Regions from separate parts of the Homo sapiens genome. Here regions 2, 3 and 4 are each reported to be linked to region 1. The links are microRNA targets in miRTarBase. Many come from high-throughput screens and were not tested one by one. Region 1 holds a microRNA gene; each other region holds the end of a gene's coding sequence.

Evidence for each region. Region 1 holds the annotated microRNA hsa-miR-142-5p (CAUAAAGUAGAAAGCACUACU, at 2,986-3,006, opposite strand). A microRNA usually pairs through its seed, bases 2 to 8, with sites in the 3' UTR of a target mRNA and lowers its output. Matches are read on the target gene's strand: a 7mer-m8 pairs with bases 2 to 8, a 7mer-A1 pairs with bases 2 to 7 and ends in A, and an 8mer does both.
Region 2: miRTarBase lists ZFYVE21 as a target of hsa-miR-142-5p. Seed matches in the 3' UTR shown: 7mer-m8 at 1,234-1,240.
Region 3: miRTarBase lists RASEF as a target of hsa-miR-142-5p. Seed matches in the 3' UTR shown: 7mer-A1 at 1,213-1,219 and 7mer-A1 at 637-643.
Region 4: miRTarBase lists PTPDC1 as a target of hsa-miR-142-5p. Seed matches in the 3' UTR shown: 7mer-m8 at 547-553 and 7mer-A1 at 1,520-1,526.

The regions. Positions count from the first base shown.
Region 1 is chr17:58,328,298-58,332,707 of GRCh38, forward strand. MIR142 (microRNA 142) reads right to left here and starts at 3,021; the gene lies at 2,935-3,021. It overlaps TSPOAP1 (TSPO associated protein 1), which reads right to left and starts at 498. Exons shown (of 32, transcript NM_004758.4): 1 at 1-498. The region is part of intron 2 of TSPOAP1-AS1 (TSPOAP1, SUPT4H1 and RNF43 antisense RNA 1); the gene reads left to right. MIR142HG (MIR142 host genes) reads right to left here and starts at 4,223. Exons shown (of 1, transcript NR_186557.1): 1 at 2,591-4,223. RefSeq lists enhancers at 371-440, 971-1,140, 1,241-1,320, 3,111-3,250, 4,051-4,120 and a silencer at 4,231-4,410.
Region 2 is chr14:103,732,365-103,736,774 of GRCh38, forward strand. ZFYVE21 (zinc finger FYVE-type containing 21) reads left to right here. Exons shown (of 7, transcript NM_024071.4): 6 at 256-398; 7 at 619-1,300. The coding sequence ends at 654. It overlaps PPP1R13B (protein phosphatase 1 regulatory subunit 13B), which reads right to left. Exons shown (of 17, transcript NM_015316.3): 16 at 3,639-3,838; 17 at 831-2,831. The coding sequence ends at 2,790. Among named protein-coding and RNA genes, the nearest start is that of ZFYVE21, 19 kb to the left of the region's middle.
Region 3 is chr9:82,979,360-82,983,769 of GRCh38, forward strand. RASEF (RAS and EF-hand domain containing) reads right to left here. Exons shown (of 17, transcript NM_152573.4): 17 at 231-3,423. The coding sequence ends at 3,318. Among named protein-coding and RNA genes, the nearest start is that of RASEF, 82 kb to the right of the region's middle.
Region 4 is chr9:94,107,498-94,111,907 of GRCh38, forward strand. It overlaps PTPDC1 (protein tyrosine phosphatase domain containing 1), which reads left to right. Exons shown (of 9, transcript NM_001253829.2): 9 at 331-2,356. The coding sequence ends at 447. Among named protein-coding and RNA genes, the nearest start is that of PTPDC1, 25 kb to the left of the region's middle.

The sequences.
Region 1 (4,410 bases):
GAAGATGGGTGCCCCCACTTCTGTGTGTTGAGGGGGGTGGTGCTGTGTGTCACTGTCTGCCCATTTCAGAGTTGCCAGTTGTTTGTGTGTGTGTGTGTGGGTGTCTGTATTGCAGGGCTGTGGCAGTATGTGATGCTGTCCCTGGTTGTATCTGAGTGTGTCAGTGTCGTGCAGCTGTGTGCATCGGTGTCGTTGTGTGTCTGTCAGTGTCTGTGGGTCTGGCCGTCTGTCGCAACCCCTCAGCCCGGCCAGAGGCTTCAGGAGCTGCTGGGGGTGATCCCCAGTGGTCCGCTGTGGTCCTTTATCTCCGGCTCTGCTCTCTGCTGCTGCTCTTTCGCTTGCTGGGTGGCTGGGCTGGTCCTAAGGAGGCCTGGGTCGATGGGCTGCTTGCCTCATAGTCTCAGCCCCTGCTGGCCTCTGCTCTGGGGACTGCAGGGGTCCCTTACAGTCCAGGAGCCTCGAGATGGTGGGCTCCGAGGAGGGCTGAGCCTCAGAATTGGGTGGGGGGGTGAGCCGGGAAGAGCCAGCCCTCCCCTCCTCCTCCTCCTCCTCCCCTCCCACCCACCAATAGGAAGTCGGCTGCTGGTTTCCATGGTGATGGCGCTGGACTGGTGGGCTGAACCGGCTGACAGGGTCGGGGACAGAAGGAAGAGCAGGTTTCTCACGGCATGTCAGCCCAGGGCTCCCACATGTGGCCTCCCACCCTCATCTTCACACATTCTCACACCTTCCGGAGTACAGAGGCGAGTGGGGTGCAGATGGTCCTCCCTACATCGGGTGAGACTGATAGAGACAGAACGGGGGAGGGTATGACAGAGATCCAGCCACAGAGAAGGGCAGAACTAGAAAAGATGGGACTTGAGATGAAACAAAGAGAGAGACAGAAACCAAGAGAAAGAAACCGGGAAGACAAGCAAAGAGACAGGTAGAAATAGACGGAGAATTCCTTCTGCTTCCTCCTGGCAGATTGCACTTGGGGGGCAACCTGGCTGTCCCAGGCCACCAGGGAAGCCCACATGGCCTGTTGGGTTGGCTTTGTCCCGAATTGCCTGGAAGTTCATCTTCTGTCTAGCCTTAGATCTTGTTGCTAAATAATTTGGGGGACAAGGACGTGAGAATCCCCTCAGCCAGGAGTCAGTCTATATGCAGTGGCAGGGGTCTAGACAGAGTCCCCAGAGCCAGGGGTGTTGGGAGAAGCCCCGAGAGGCAGCCCCTCTCCACTCTGAACCCGGGACTCATTAGGCAAGCCAGTTTCAGCCAAGGTCGGGGGCCCTCGTGTGGCACCCCCACAGAATAGCAGCGGTGATACTGAACCCTAGAGCCCCTGACTGTGGGCTCCACCCAGGCAAGAGCCAATGGAACTGGAGGTAGGGGGTGCATGGGGAGGAGTGGACATCTTCACTTCCCTAAAGCAGTGTGTAGGTCAACACGCACGCCACTGCATGATGTGTTGCTGTTTAGGTCAGAGTATATATGCATGCCATTATGCGCATGCGTGTGTATAGTATGCATCTATAGAATAGACATTATCTATTTCTGTATATGTGAAGGGGCCATTGTGTGTATATATGTGTGTGCTATTATGTGTCTATGAGTCACATAATAAAACGTAACAAAAACACATTGGGTGTATCTGTATGTATGTTTCTGTGTCATTGCATCTATGTTTGTTTGCCACTGTGTCTATGTGTGTGCTGTTATGTGCATGGGAGGCTATCATTGCATGAGTTTATAAATTACAACACATCATGATATATATAGATATGGATGCTACTATATGGCACAATGTAGTAATTGATTACACAATATATGACATGCTCATATCGTCATGTAAATATGCATAATGACATGGTTTGATTTATATATATATATCACCATGTATCTATGTATTCTATATTTATCATGATATATGAACATGTCTCTATCTATGTATGTGTATGGAGCCACCGTGTTTATTATGCAAATGTCACTGTATGTGTGTGCTCTTCTATGTGTAAGACACGCCCTATGTTTCTATCATTGCATGTGTGTACTACTGAATATGTATGTGCCCTGGGTGTGTGTAATCCCTGTGTGTGTCATGCCAGTCATGTCACATGTGTCTGTGTGTGTGTTACTGGCACACTGAATGGGGCCTCTGTGTGTAAATGCATTTGCATCTCAGTGTGTGCTTTGTATATGAGTGTCTGTGCCCTTGTCTAAGATGCTGTGTATGTGCCACAGTGGATTTTGCCCAATTTTTATATGACCTAGGACCCCCTAGACTTTCTTAGATTAAAACTGGATGTAGGCAGCTTTCAGTTTGGGTATGTAGGGGGGCAGGATAGGGCCAGAGCTAGGGTAGAAGGTGAGAGGATGCCTTACATCCCTGCCCCTTTCTGCAGATGGCCCAGGCCCTTCTCTCCTCCGGCTGTGGCCTGGCCAGGCCCAGAGCCCTCTTCTGATCTCATAGGCAGGGCCAAACCCGTATCTTCTGGAGGAGCGACAGAGGTTCTCCCTCCCAGCCCTTCTGTGCGCCCATACTGTCCATGTGCCTGCCGCCCGCATTCAGCTCCCCACCCCAGCAACAGAGTCTCAGACAAAAGAGAAGCACAGTCCAGTCTTTATTAGCATTGGGTCCCTGGTCCCACCACCCATTCCCCTCCACGTACCATCCCTTCCCACCCCTTCCTCGTCCTTGACGCTGCGGCTGCATCAGGGTTCCACATGTCCAGCCCTCCCCGCCCCCAAAGACTGCAGGGCAGCAGAGGAGCTGCTGTGGCCTTTCCCCAGCTGTCCGGAACCAGGAAGGGCAGGAAAGCCATGGAGGCCTTTCAGGCATCTGGGCAGGGTAGGGAGGGGCCGTAAGGTGCTCACCTGTCACACGAGGTCCCCGAGCGCCGAGGAAGATGGTGGCGGGCAGCGGGCGGCAGCAGTGGCGTGATCTCCGAAGCCCACAGTACACTCATCCATAAAGTAGGAAACACTACACCCTCCAGTGCTGTTAGTAGTGCTTTCTACTTTATGGGTGACTGCACTGTCTGTCTGTCCGTCGGCGTGTACTCTTCAGGCTGCCCAGGCCTCCTGACTCCTGCTCCAAGAGCCCCCCAGCCCTCCTTGTGGCTTCCTAAGATCCCCCCAACCCTGCCAGGGCCCCCCGAGGGCCCGCCCTGGGCCTTGTGGGCGGTGACTCAGCATGGCGCCAGACTTGCCTCCTCTACCTCCCTCCCCCACTTCCTCTTCAGTTCCCTCTTCCCTTCCCCCTAAAGGCTCCACCCCATCCCCCCAGTTTCAGAGACACTCAGGTAGAGACTAGGGCCTCTGGAGGCCTCACCTTCAGTTCTGTGAACCCCTGGCTGGCCGCTTCCAGCCACGCTAGCCACCCTCCAGCGTCCAAATGAGGCAGCCACAGCTCCCCTGCCAAGGTCTTGGTCTCCAGTCCACCCCAACCGTGAGGTCCTGACTGCCCAGAGCCTCAGTCCCCACCCTTCAGCCTCCCCACCAGCCCAAGATCCTGACCCCCCAGGGCCTAAGTCCCCAGCCTCCCCAACAGCCCAGGGTCCTGACCCCCCAGGGCCTCAGGCCCTGGCCTCCCCACCAGCCCAAGGTCTTGAACACACCAGGGCCTCAATTCCCAGCCTCCCCACCAGCTCAAGGTCCTGACTCCCCCAGAGCCTCAGTCCCAGCCTCCATAGCAGCCCAAGGTCCTGACCCCCCAGGGCCTCAGTCCCCAGCCACTCCACCAGCCCCAAAGTCCTGACTCCCCAGAGCCTTGATTCTCGGCCTCCCCACCAGCCCAAAGTCCTGACTCCCTCACTGCCCTGCTGTTCCCCTGGCAGGAGCCCAAGGCTATCCCAACAAAAATGGTGGCCATGTTGGGCGGAGGAAGAGGCTGGCGCCCCTTGAGACACTGGTCCCACTTCTCAGCCTCTGCGTACCCTCTGCCATCCCCGCCTTACTCTCCAGCCCTCCTCCTTGGACACCTCTTTCCCCGCCTGGGGTCCCGGAGCCATTTTACCTTCCTTCACTAGAGAGGGTTTCAAGGCGCTTTGCCCTGAGCTTCCCGCATGGGGCTTGCACCCAAGCTCCTCGACACCCCCAACGCGCCTCCACCCAGACCAGCAGCCCAAGCCCCTAGAGGCCCCGAGCTGAGGAGCCCCAGTTGGGGCAGCAGTGAAGGTCCGGATCCTTACCTGAGGCTGCAGGGCGGAGGAGAGCTCGCCCTGTGCTCCAGGCTCCGAAGTGGGGTTCCCTTCAGGGAGGGCAGGGCTTATAACCCCGAGGCCACGTGGGCCAGATCTCAGGGCGCCCAACGGTCTCAGAGCGCGCCCCGCCCCCGCCCGCAGGGGATGAGCGCCCTCCCTCCCTCCCTCCCTGGGGAGGACAGACTGACAGGAAACAGAAGGGGGTGGGCCCGCGGGAGGGCTGGGG
Region 2 (4,410 bases), not on the chromosome of region 1:
GTTGTTTGTCCCGGGCCCTGGGGCACCCGGCTGAGTGTCTTGGTCCCTCTCCCACCCCACCTGTGAGCTTGGGGTCTCCCCTCAGAGGCCTGAGGAGATGGTGTTCCCTGGGTGCTCCTGAGCACCAGCCCTCACTGCCAGGCTACTCTTGGAGCAGCACAAGGTTAGGATGTGCTGGCCACCGCCTTGGGGCTGGTGGCCGCCTGGGCACTCAGGGCCTCCTTTGGGCCGTCTTACCTCGTCTCTCTCCTCCAGGAGGCAACGCACGGGCCACAGGCATGTTCCTGCAGTATACAGTGCCGGGGACGGAGGGTGTGACCCAGCTGAAGCTGACAGTGGTGGAGGACGTGACTGTGGGCAGGAGGCAGGCGGTGGCGTGGCTAGTGGCCATGCACAAGGTACCTGAGCCCAGGCCAGGGAGGCTGGGCCCTTTGGCTTAGACAAAAGCTTGCCTTTCCCAGAGGAAGCTCTGTGTCCTGCCATTTGCCCCCTATCCCCACAACCTGTTCCCCCTCAGCTGGGGTGCCCACGCCATCTCCCCTGAAATGCACACAGGCTTGGCTCCACCAGGCACAGGACCAAGCAGGCCTCACTGTGTTGATCTTGTCTGATCTGCAGGCTGCCAAGCTCCTCTATGAATCTCGGGACCAGTAACTCTACGTGGGGCTGAGCTTGGAGTACGTGTGGTCACCAGGACTGAGTCGCTTGGAACAGCAGAGCCTGCTCCTTGCGTACCACAGGGATTAATCCTGCTTGTGCTGGGAAATGCAACTCACTCATGTATTTGGAGAAACAGGAGTGTTCACTTATCTAGTGCAATATGTTCACAGTTTATTAATGCTTTAAACAGCTTCATGTTTTAGAATTTGTGTATTGTCAATACTTAATTGGGGGTGGGAGAGACTGAGCTACACTACTGCTAAACTATTTTTAGCATAATATATACCATTTTTATGAGTTCGCAGGTCTACTAGAAGGTTCTGGCCCATCAATATTCATTTCATTTAATTCTTCCACAGAACCAGTTTGGGCAGTAGGAACTCAGGCTTCTGGTCTGCAGTGGAGCCTGTTCGCCTCTAATAGCCAGTTTACAGCACTTGCCTTAGCCTGTTTCACAGACTTGTCCACTTACCTTGTCACTAATTTGGGGCTTCTGGGCTGTGAGTGATCCTTTGATACTTCACCAAGGGGAACGTGGGGGCTTTGTGTTTTGTACTTTTCACTCACTATTTCACTTTATTAAGATGACTGTACAGCAATTTGTATATAAAGCTTATGATTAAAAACTATTTTGAACATACGGACAAGGCCTCGCCTTCCTGTGTCCAGATCACCTGAACCCTCGTGCCACAGCGCAGTCTGGGTCCAGAAAGAAGACTCACAGCCGCCGGGGTGAGACGGGTTTATTGTGCACATTTACACAGCGTCAGCAGCGTCTGGGCTGGCAGCGGCCATGCTCCTGTGGTCGGGCTGCTCTACAAGGGCGTTCACTTTTCTTCACCACACTATGTACAGTCAGTGCTCCAAGGTGATGGGCTACAGTGCTGCATCAGTGAGTCTGTACACACATTTTTACATAAATTACACACGACTCATACATGAAAAATAGAGCCTAAGGGCCTGTATTTTAATGAGAAAAAAAAAATTTCCAACATAGTTCGGGTAGCTTTGAATGGTCTAGTCAAAAAATACTTTTGGTATATAAAAAGCCTGTACGTACAATTCACACCTCAGTGAAGCGCCCTCCTTGCCTTGAGGCTGGGCCTGGGACAAAGGTGGCCTCACAGCCAGCCCAGGCAGGGAGATCGGCAGAGAGGGGTGGCCCCTGACCCCAGCTCCTCTGCCCCAGCTGCTGCTCCTTGGTGGCGGCCCCTCCTGACACCAGGCGTCTGCCATCCTTCAGGCACCAAACAGCCCCGTCTACCTGGCCCTGGTCTGCCCTCACACCAGTCCACCCCCAGCCCCAACCCCAACCACCCTCCGCTGCCACGGCCTCCAGCACCTGACTCCATTCAGGGAACTGAATTTGAGCTTGCAGGGGTGAGAACCACACTGAGCAGCATGACAGGCTGTGAGATCGGAGGAGAAGAGTATATGCTGAGGCTCTCCCAGTTGTCACTTGGTCTTAGGGGTCCTGGTGCCCGTGGCGCGGCAGTCCAGCCACAGTGCTGGGCCTGCACAATCAGCCTTTAGGTGAACTGGAACAGGAAGCGGAACCCCCAAGGCGGCCGAGCAGAGTGGGTACTGGGAGGCATACACACTGGGCAGCAACACTGGACATGTTTCCATACAGAGGCTCCTTTGGTGATGAAGGGAAGAAGGATCATGTGTGGGAAGTGTGAGAAAGGATGAGTGTCCGATTCGGTGACGGGGGGCAGGGCGGTCGCAGGGGAGCAGGCCTCACAGCGGCGGACAGTGTTCACTGCTGGAGGGGGTGATGGCCTCGGGGCCAAGTCAGTAAGAGCTTCTGTCTTCACTGGCAACCAACCGGGGGTTATGGGACTTCTTAATGGCAAGAGGGGTGGGTGTTTTGAAAGTGGGTATTTATTTGGATTTATAGTAATTGGCAAAATTCAGTCCTTGGAGGCGAAAGTACCTCTCCCAGTTAATGGGCAAACTGGAGAAAGGGCCTCACCTGGAAACTGTAGGATTCACATTGTGGACGCTGTCTGCTAAAGTGAGCACCATTAAGACCATTTTCTAGCTGCAGCTTTCCTGGAAAACAGCACAATAATCTCTTAAGTGGCTCCTGGTAGCTGGCAAGACCATGCGGTGCTCCAAAAGGAAGTTCAGGCGAGTGTTCGCTGTCGGGGTTTGATCCGTGGATACAGCTGGGAAGCAACGGAGCCGCGTCAGGACAGGAAGCCACACACAGGGAGCAGGGCCAGCCAGACCCGACCCCTGCTCCTCACCTCAGCCACCCTGGACAGCCGTGCAGCACCCTTGTCCCTCAGGCCTACGCTCAGCTGCACCTCTACACTGAGACCCACCCAGCCCTCTTTAAAATGTGCCTTGTACCCCCAGAATATCCTATTTTTCTCACAACACTTCATGCCACCTAAAGACTTGTGACTGCCTGTGGCTCTCAAGGTCATAAGCTCCCCTGGGCAAGGGTCTCTGCCTGGCTCCCTGCTGTGTTTGCCTGGCCAAGAACGTTGGCTCAACAGCAAGCCCCTGGCAGCTCTGCAGGGCACAAAGAGAGCAGAGGCAGCTCCCTCTGCCAGAGGACTGAGGGAATCACAAGTCCAACACAGAGCTAGCAGCCTGCACGTTCCCACCTCTCCCTCCACTGGAGAAATTTCTAGGCTGCAGAGATTTCTAGATTGGGGAAAGTGTGGGTGGGCTGAGCCGGGCCACTTGGTGAAGTTCATCATGAACCGAGCTCATTGAGCGGCCCCTCACTGGGGCACTCAGCCTCCGCACGGGCCTCCATGGCATAAGCATGGCTGGGGGAACCTCCTGGGGCCCTGCCTGAGCCTCATGCCAGCTCTGCCAAGTAGGCACCTCCCCCTCTACAGAGGGGGCTGCTGAGGCTCAGAGAAGCGAAGCCTCCCTCCCCAGCCCCACAGCAGGATAGGACCGCATGCTGTACAGAGACACGGGCAGCTAGTTTCCCAGTAAGTAACCTGAGTGCTCACCCCCAGCAGGTTTTTGGGCACATAGCCCTCCCGGTCTCCAAGGCGAGCCCACCACCACTCAGTCTCGCTTTCGTCCTTGCGCCTCAGGATGGTGAGGGCGTCCCCTTCGTGGAAGGACAGCTCGTCACTGTTCTGGGCCTCGTAGTCCCACAGAGCATACGCCACACCTTTGTTCATCACACCCAGCTTTTCCTGCACCCCTGGAGCCAGAGAGCAATGGTCAGGCCTCAGCAGAGGGTGGCCTGCAGCAAGGGACCCTGCTCGAGGAACAGGACACAGTCGTGCTGCTGCCGAGGCTGCTCTCAGCAGGCCCCACAGAGGCCAGCGAGGGAGATGAGACACTATTGAAGACTAGGGCCCCCACCCGATACCTCCCCTGCCCGGCCCAGCTGCTGCTCCTGCTGCCGGCCCTTTCTAAGTCCTGCAGGACAGACAGGACAAACGAGCTCCTGAGCCCCAGGGCAAGAGTGTGCTGTTCTTAAGGTGACGCTTAGCAATCACAGCCAGAACAGATTTCTAAAGTCACTAGCTAGAGCAGCTGTGACTGCTCTTGGATGGTAATGAACAAACTACACACAACTGAGCCCTGACTGAGCAGCTACTTGTGGGTTCCCAAGAAAGGGCCCTTCTGTGGGACACTCTGCTTCTGAGACCCAGTTGTGGTGACCATGGGGAGCTTCCCTTCCCTGTGGTGGTGCCACTGTGACGGCAGCCTCCTCCTCACACTGGCGGGACTCACCTGGGGGCTGCTGTGCCTCCCCTAGCCCTGCCA
Region 3 (4,410 bases), not on the chromosome of region 1:
CTATTCCTGGCTGTCCTGTCCCAAGCTGGTCTACCTGCTGCCCTGTTGGCCAGGATGACTTGTCTGTGCCACAGCACTGAATACCAGGCGTGCATTCTTCTCTCCCAACACTCGGCTTGCCATGGCCAGAAAAGACAAGTGTTTTAGAGGTATGGTTTCAGGCAGACACATCCTAGAATTAAAATTACTTCAGGGATATCTGCAGTAAAGCTGAAGGAAACACTCAAAAGGCCAAAGGAAGCAAGCTTTATTGAATTTACAACGTAGAAAATATTTGTAGTTCCTTAGACATTTGCATTGCTATAAAAATTACACTTTATGGTATAATTATTAAGGTTTGAAGAGAAATAAACAGTATAAACGAAATATGGCCCACACAATGAAAATGTAAACCATATAAATCAAAATCATAAAACAATTATTCAATACTCAGAGGCCTACTTAATATATACATATGAAATTTCTTACACACACACAATAAATGCCCACAAAAACCATCACTGAAGCCGATCACTGTACAAATATGAAAATAAATCTTTATCTTTAACCTCAATTTTATCTTCAGCAGGAGGGTTGTGCAACTTGGGTTTATGCAGATCACATCAAGTGTTAAATAATCAAATGTCACATATGTCATATAAAGCAGCAAGTGAAAAAAATAAATTATGAAAATGCATGGGCTAAAAGTTAACAGTGAAAAATATCTCCTTATCCAACATTATTTTCCACAATGAAATTAAAATATTTTACAATGTATCAGGATACATTTAAAAAAGGACTGTAGTATAACTATGATTTTAAAATATCTTAAAGAAAAACAGGGACAAGGTGAATAACTTCCATAGTAATATGCAAATGTATCAAGTCTAAGATAAAAACATTAAATATTTTTGTTCTTACTGAAAATGTGCTTTAAATTTGAGAACACCTTCATGAAATCAAAACGTTGGTAATAATCATGAATCTCCCAGCATACAGAGCTTTAAGAAGCTTCTCTTTAAACATGATTGCTAACCAGAGCTCTAAGTCTCTAATTTGGATTATGTTACCAAAATATTTATCAGGGCTCAAATACTTAAAGATGATTGGTTGACCATCAAAGGCACTGGTGTAATCTCATCAACGTGGCTATACTGACAGGACAATCCAGAGGTAAAGACTATGAAAATACTTCTGTATTATGGTATACTCTTTCACAGATTGTAAAACAAATATAAAGAGACACTTTGGAGAGAATAAATAAAGGCAACACAGTAACATATAAACTAACACAGTTTTGTGCAACTGCACCAAAACCTAAACATGTGTCCCATATATCAGCATCTACATATATCTGATCCAATGTCATCAAAAGATGCCACTAAGACAAACAGCCATGGCAAAAGTTTTCCCATGCCACATAAATAATACCCCCCTTATTTTGAAAAATTTCCCATATGCAAGACATTCTTTATGATCAGAAATGTAATCTTTTCTTTTTCTGGAACCAGGAAACAGGAATTCATGGCAGAGTTACTGAGGATAGATCCAACTTTCCAGCAAAAATATCAGATGTCTTCAATAGAGAGAAGGCATGTTTATAAAAGTTAAATGATGTTGTAGCTATTTATAATCTTTGCCTGTAACTATCCGGTCAATTCCCATTTTTTCAAAAAACTGATGCTTGCGGAATTTAAGGTTCTATCACAAACACCGTGAACAGAAAAAAGATTGCTACATGGAATTGTTTCGATTCAACAAAAATAAATGTTTTTAGCTTATACAATACAATAAATAACAGCTACTTTTTAAGTTCCTTCAGCAAGCTACTTGGGGCCTGGACCTAGATGAAGCAAGGTAAATTAGAATCTTTTGTTGTAGCCCACCCTAGGCTCAAGTGTTGACTCCTTTGGCTCTTAGAGGCATCTCAGTGGGGAGGTCTGGGAAGCAATGCAGGTTCTGGAAGGAGAGTAGGCCCAACCAGGTCACTGGTGATGATGAGCCACTAGTCACATTAAACAAAGGACCCTGACTCACCTTTCCTAATGGTGATTCCTCTTTCAAGGATATTATTTCAAAACCATGCATAGAATTTCTTTCATTGATTATTACTTAAGGAAGTTAATGTTAGCAACCAGGGAGTTAGGGGACTTGCATTACATTACAGGTTATGCTTCTAAACCATGGGAAGGTTTGAAATCAGCAGGGATACGAAAATGAAAATTTTGCAAAATGTTACATCACTCTAAGTACTAGCATTTTTTTTAGTGAGATAATTCACAACCATAAAATTCACCCTTTCAAAGTATACAATTCAGTGGTTCCTAGTACATTCAAACAGTTATACAACTATCACCACTATTCCAATTCCAGAACATTCTCATCATCGCCCAAAGAAACCACATACCTATTAGCAGTCACTCCCCATCCTCCCTTTCTCAGCCCCTGGCAACCACTCCCTTAAGTGAAGAGTGACAACTTTCCTGGGCATTGTGCTTTCAGTAGTATGTGGCTTTACATGTTTCCATTAGAATTTTTAACACCAAATTCAAGCAGTGAGCTTTGTAACTATTCTGAGATTATGAAATATCCTTTTATATACAACTATTTTTGTCTCAAACATGTTTCTTTATACATAAAAAATAGATATTTCTGTTTCCATTTTTTAATCAAATTCTGTCCTTATTTCAGAAGTGAGAAAAATCAATACTCCAATATTAAAAAGCAGGAATAACCATAGTTCTATTATTAACTGTGGGCCACCACACTCTCTGTCCTACTGCTTCCCACAGAATCTGAGGTGCCAAGGGCTGCAAGGCCTTTGAGGGCAAGCTGCACATTTTACAGATGAAGAAACAGATCCGACATGGGCTTGTGACATGTCCAAGGTCACAAGGCCAGTTAACAGCAAAGCTAGGATGAGAATCCCTTCTTACTAGAACTTTAGTATCAAATATTTAAATGCTGACTTTGTGGGTAACCTAATTCAGCTACCACATGAATCTAATTATGTCAGTTTCCTCTACAGCTTTGATCTGAGCATGTGATTTCTTTTCTTTTCTTTTTTTTTACCATTTTAAAAACATTTACATGTTATCTTTTAAGACCTGTAAGGACATGACTAGTCTATTTAGCCAGAGGGCCCAAATCACTCACTGAGACAAAACAAAGAAGAGCCAAAGTTCCAGAGGGACCTGAGAGCTGGGTTCAGGTTTCCTGCACTGTAACTCTCCATAGGACAGTGTCAGTAGGATGTGCCACTCTGTTAAGAGCCAAATAAGTCACACAAATTCAGTATTCTGGAAATGAAGACTTCACAGGCCAAGGATGTTTGGGATTTAGCCATTGCAACAATTCTTCATCTGTGGTGACTTTTTGGAATTGGTCCCGGTTAGATTGGTAATGGATCTGCTGTCATCCTTGTCAGTTCTCTTTTTCACTTCTCTGAGACAGAGATAGAGAGAGACAGAGAGAGAGAGAGAGAGAGAGAGAGAGGATTACTGAGGTATAAAAACTAAGCCACAGATGGTTCTGTAGAAATAAAAATAGCCATGCTGAGTGTCTGCACGGCCTTATAGACATTGTTTTAATGCTTTATAGGTCTTGACTTAATCTTCATAAGAACCATATAAATTTGCTGTGCCCCATTTTGTATGTGAGGAAATGAGGGCAAAAAGAGGTTAAGACAGTTCCCTTAGGTCACATGACTACAGAAGTGGGATTAAAACCACACAGGCTGGCTCCAGCACCTGTTTTCTGAGTACCAGGCCACACACACACACACACACACACACACACACACACACACACACACACACCCTTCTCCCCTCACTCTCTCCTGAGGTTTCAGGATGCTGCAGAACCTGCGATACACACAGCTTGCTCCTTAACACTCTGGAACCAGGTTTCCAGCTTCATGTAATGGTTGCTGAGCTTAACAAAAGCAATGGTGATTTTATAACCGTTCTTTAATTATACATGATCATGGAGGTAACAATGGATTTACCACCATCCCTTTCTGTCATCGTAAGCTTCTTCCAGTATTAACTGCTAGAGGCAAGACTCACGAAAAAATGTCTTACTCTCCAAGATCTTATGAAAACCCCCTAAGGAAGTATCCTTCCAGGTGTAGCCACTGGGGATGCTTGTGAAATATGAAGACCAGAAGTCTCACCTTAGACAAGCTGAACGGCTATCTCTGCCAGCGAGATGAGTGCCTCCCTAAGATGGCCCCAAATAATTCTGCCCTTCCTTGTCAGTGCCTGATGCCTCTCCCATCAAGAGGTGAAGGTTTGATCCCCTACCCTCTTGGTCAGAGCTGGTTCTCCACCTGCTTTGACCAATAGAATATGGAGGAAATGGTATTCTGTGGCTTCTAAACCCAAGTGTTTATAATGCGGGGCTGCAGCAATCTCTACCCCCTTTGAAGTC
Region 4 (4,410 bases), not on the chromosome of region 1:
GGGAAACTTTTCTCTTATACCATCAATGATTAGTCTCAAAAAATTCACTTCACACCCACTGTTGACTTGCTTCATGACTGGGTGTATATAATTAGACTAAATATCCAGGCACTAGATTTAATTTTGGGGTTTTCATTCATAAGTTTGATATTGACATGGTTGGCAGTTCTAATAGTCTTTCAAATAAAATGTGTGAAATTTATTATGTGTATTTTATATAGAGTTTTGTTTGTAAGTCTGTTTTTTTTCTCCACCCCCTCCTTCTCTCAAAATAGAAACTAGTTCAAATTCTTGTTACAGTGTCCTGAATATAAATTTCTTTGTCACCAGGTTAATTTTGATTCTGAAAATGGACCAACAGTTTACAACACCCTGAAGAAAATATTTAAGCACACGCTGGAAGAAAAAAGAAAAATGACAAAAGATGGCCCTAAGCCTGGCCTCTAGCTTTCACTCGTGGTGAATATTTCAGACCTAAAGATCCAGATAGTATCTCTGTTCATATGTGAATAAGTTGAAGATTGTGGGGCTACTTTTTCTCATAGCACTTTATTTTGAATGTTGTTAGTTTGTGCTGAGAATGGTCGTCCGTATTTGAACCAATTATTTATTTTAAAATATATTTAAGCTACATTTTTGTTTTGAAAAATTGCCATAAATTTGGTGCCACTTTCTTTTATTTATTTGACTGAGTTAATATTATTGTATTAACATTTTAAGTATATGGTGTTTACATTCTTATTTCTTTTGACATTTTGGAAATAATCATAACTTGTCTTTCCAAAATAACCATTTTCTTGATGGAACTCTTCCTAGAGTTTTTACCAAATAGCTAACTTTAGTAGTAAAACCTCATTGTGTATCCATTCCCCCACAGATGAACTAAGAAAGTCACCAAGTGTCTTAAGCTGTTTTATATTTGTTACGAAGAAGGCTATTGCTACAATATTTTTAAAGGTTTCTTTTTTAACTTTGAAATTTTTTGTTTTTCCTTTTCTTTTTATAAATGTAACAGAGGGTTTCAAAGCATATTATTTTTCAGAGAGATTTAGTTTTACTTTAATGGAGTGACTGTGAAGTGGTTGGGATTTTTTGCTTGTAGAAAGTAGACTTGCTCTTTGTCAGATTTCCAAACAACCTTGCCAGCCTTGGCTGTCAAAAGGAGGCAGGAGCAGTTCTCAACACACCAAGCCTTATTCCCACTCCCTTGGGTTGCTGCTGAGCCAAATAGCATCTTTACAGAGGAAGTGGGATCAGAGGCAGGAAGTGTGGAAAGTTGCTAAGAAGCAGGGCTTGCCTCTGTCCTCCCGGGGACTCCACAGGGATATTCGTGCAGGGCAGGGGCTCTGTGCCAGCCCTGCTCTCTCAGATGCCACAGCCACTCTGCAGAGGTGACTCTTGGAGCTGGAGGAAGTCAAAACTGGGCCACTGTTTGTACTGATGGTGTATTAGCATGAGCAGCGTGGCCCTGGCCCCACACTCCCAAATCTGCCACTCCATAGACCCACTTGCCTCAAGGCTTTATATTTGGCTGCTTTCTTACAATGAGAATTAAGATTTTTAAACTGAAGTTGACCATACAGGTTGCATTAGCCCTAACTGGCTTCATGTAAGAAGGGTGACTGCCTAAACTAGTTCCTTGTAAGCTGAACCATCAATTATCAGTTGAAGCCATACTTTTATTTAAATTAATATACGTAGATACCAGAGGCCAAGCCACAGAGAGGATAATAGTTCTTCCCAATAAAGGTGATATTAATCAGACTAATTTCGAACTAAAGAAGTTACTGCTTAAAGACGGAATTTCAGGGGAAGCAAGACTCATTTAGAACAAATGAAATTTCTCCAGTCCTACATTTCTGAATTGACTTCTAGCACATCAAAAATATTTCAGTCATTATCAGTCTCATTAACTGAAATGCCAAATGCTAAATGCAGTGTTCTTTCACACTGTTTTAATTTTCTTGGGAAATTGAGTCCAGTGGATGTTAATGGAGTGGGTTGCCCATCCCTGAAATGTCTTATTTTCAAGTGCCTGGCCTGGGAAAGAAGGGGAAGAAACAATTGCATTATATCCAAAGATACACTATAAAAATAGAGTTTTTACCAAAAAAAGATGTTTGTTCTCATCTCAGTAGGCCTCATTTGGGCAAGTGACCCACAGGTCTTTTGGCGAGTTTGCTATTTGCCTGTTGAAATACTTGTTTCAACTTAGAGAACAGTTATGATGTGACCATAGCATGGCACAACTAAAAATCTAAGCCTGAAACCTGAAAAAAGAGATATGACAAGGGAAATTAATCAGGCTATACATAAGTATTGTATTTATTTGAATAAAAATAAAAAGAGCAACCCATAATCCTAGTCCTGTACTTCTTTACCTTGATGCTCTAGGACATCTGATGATAAAGACAAGGTTTTGTCTTAGATTATCCTAATAGGCAGATTGAGTTGTCGGCTGATTCAGTGAGCCAAGCTCTAGTTAGTGCAGACTCCTTCCATCAGTTCAGCATGACCAAACACTGGGGGGTTGGGATAGGTGAGTTCTAAGAGGAATAGCTGGGGAAAATCTCCAAGCTGACAAGATTCCTAACTTCCCATATTTGGATGAGGAGTTCTTTGTAGCCCAGAGGACAGAAATCTCACATATTGGGAGAAGTGATAAGGTTGAAAAATTCAGTTCAACAGAAATAGGAAGGTTAAGGGCACACACATATTAAGAACTTACCATGGGCCAGCCGTATCCATTACCTCACTGAATTATCTTGACAGAAGTCTTTTTTATTTCATTTATTTATATATATTTTTTTGAGACGGGGGTCTCGCTCCGTAGCCCAAGCTGGAATGCAGTGGCATGATCTTGGCTGACTGCAACCTCCGCTCCCAGCCTGAAGCCATCCTCCCACCTCAGCTTCCTGAGTAGCTGGGACTACAGGCACATGCAATCACATCTGGCTAATTTTTTGTTTTTTTGTTTTTTTGGTATTTTTTGTAGAGATAGGGTTTCACCATGTTACCCAGGCTTGTCTTGAACTCCTGAGCTCAAGTGATCCTCCCACCTCGGCCTCCCAGAGTGCTGGGATTACAGGTGTGAGCCACCGCACCTGGCCTCAGAAGTCTTAATCATAACTGTGTGACGTGAGATGTGGAGTCCAATGGACCCCGTGCTGTGCCCTCCTCTCTGCTCATGTTACCTGCCTATAGGACTCTTAACCTGGCAAAGCTGCCCGTCAAAGTGCCTTCTCAGGGACCTTGAGGTCCCTTTAGCACTAAATTTTATGATGGCATTAAGAGAACACTGTGCTGTCCATAACTTAGTGAAAATATCACACATCTGTCCTGGAAAAGGCTGAACCAGCTCTATTATTATCCTATGATGTTCTCTAGTATATCACACTTAGAGGAAGTACATGATTTCTTGCCACTGTTGCCTTTTCTTACTTCAGAGAGCTTACTAATGCCCTTTGAGACAAATTGCTGCTGGTGGTAGAGCTCGCTTCATTTATTTATGTAACTCAGAAAATCTGTGCTGAGTTACTTAGTCATATCTTCATCCAGCTTGCCAGTCTTATCTGAGAAAAAGTACTTGCTTCATCGTTCTGGATTCCATGAAAACCACCATATATCATAATTCAACAGAGGTAAAGTGTCTCTATTTTCTCTTAAATGGAGAATGCTTGCTGATATGATTGGGTGCTATTTCAGGCTAGTCTCCACATGTCCGAAAAAATATCCAGGGACAGTGTAATGTAGATAGAATGCAAGCCCCAAGTTCTTGACATCTGACAGCCCCATGTAATTTGGGGGGTCAATTTAAAAATGACAGCTTACTCATAGGATCTTTATTATTATTCCAAATTAGCAAGCATTAATATATTTTCAGTGCAGGTAAATCAAGAACAATGTTCTCTTTGATGCTTTTTATGAATGGCACAAGATTAGCATGTTACCTAAGAGAGCTTTTCTCAATGCTAGATGGCTGCAAATTGTTTATAGATAAAGTAGCAGGAGAAAAATTCAACAAAATCCTGTTTCTCAGTGGGTCATTATTTTTTTAGTTATGCTTTTAGGCATGAGCTAATCTCTGATTACCTCAACACTGACAATAAAACTGATTTATAAATAATCACAATGGAACCATTCAGTATTGGAGCTTGACAAGCCTTTGTTCAAAGCCCTTCAGTCACTAAAAATAATGTCCCAATAAGACTTAAATGTCATAAAACCTTTTGCAACGAAAATAAAAGTTTCATACATCCACTGAAACTTGTACAGTAAGAGAAGCCTGCTAAGCCCTTACCTCTCGGCTTTCTTGATTAAAATGAAAAGATATTTTACTCTTGAGATTGCCTATTTTAGAGAAAAATTACATTTTGAGGATGGGCTCCTGCTTACCCGATCTCTAGAAAG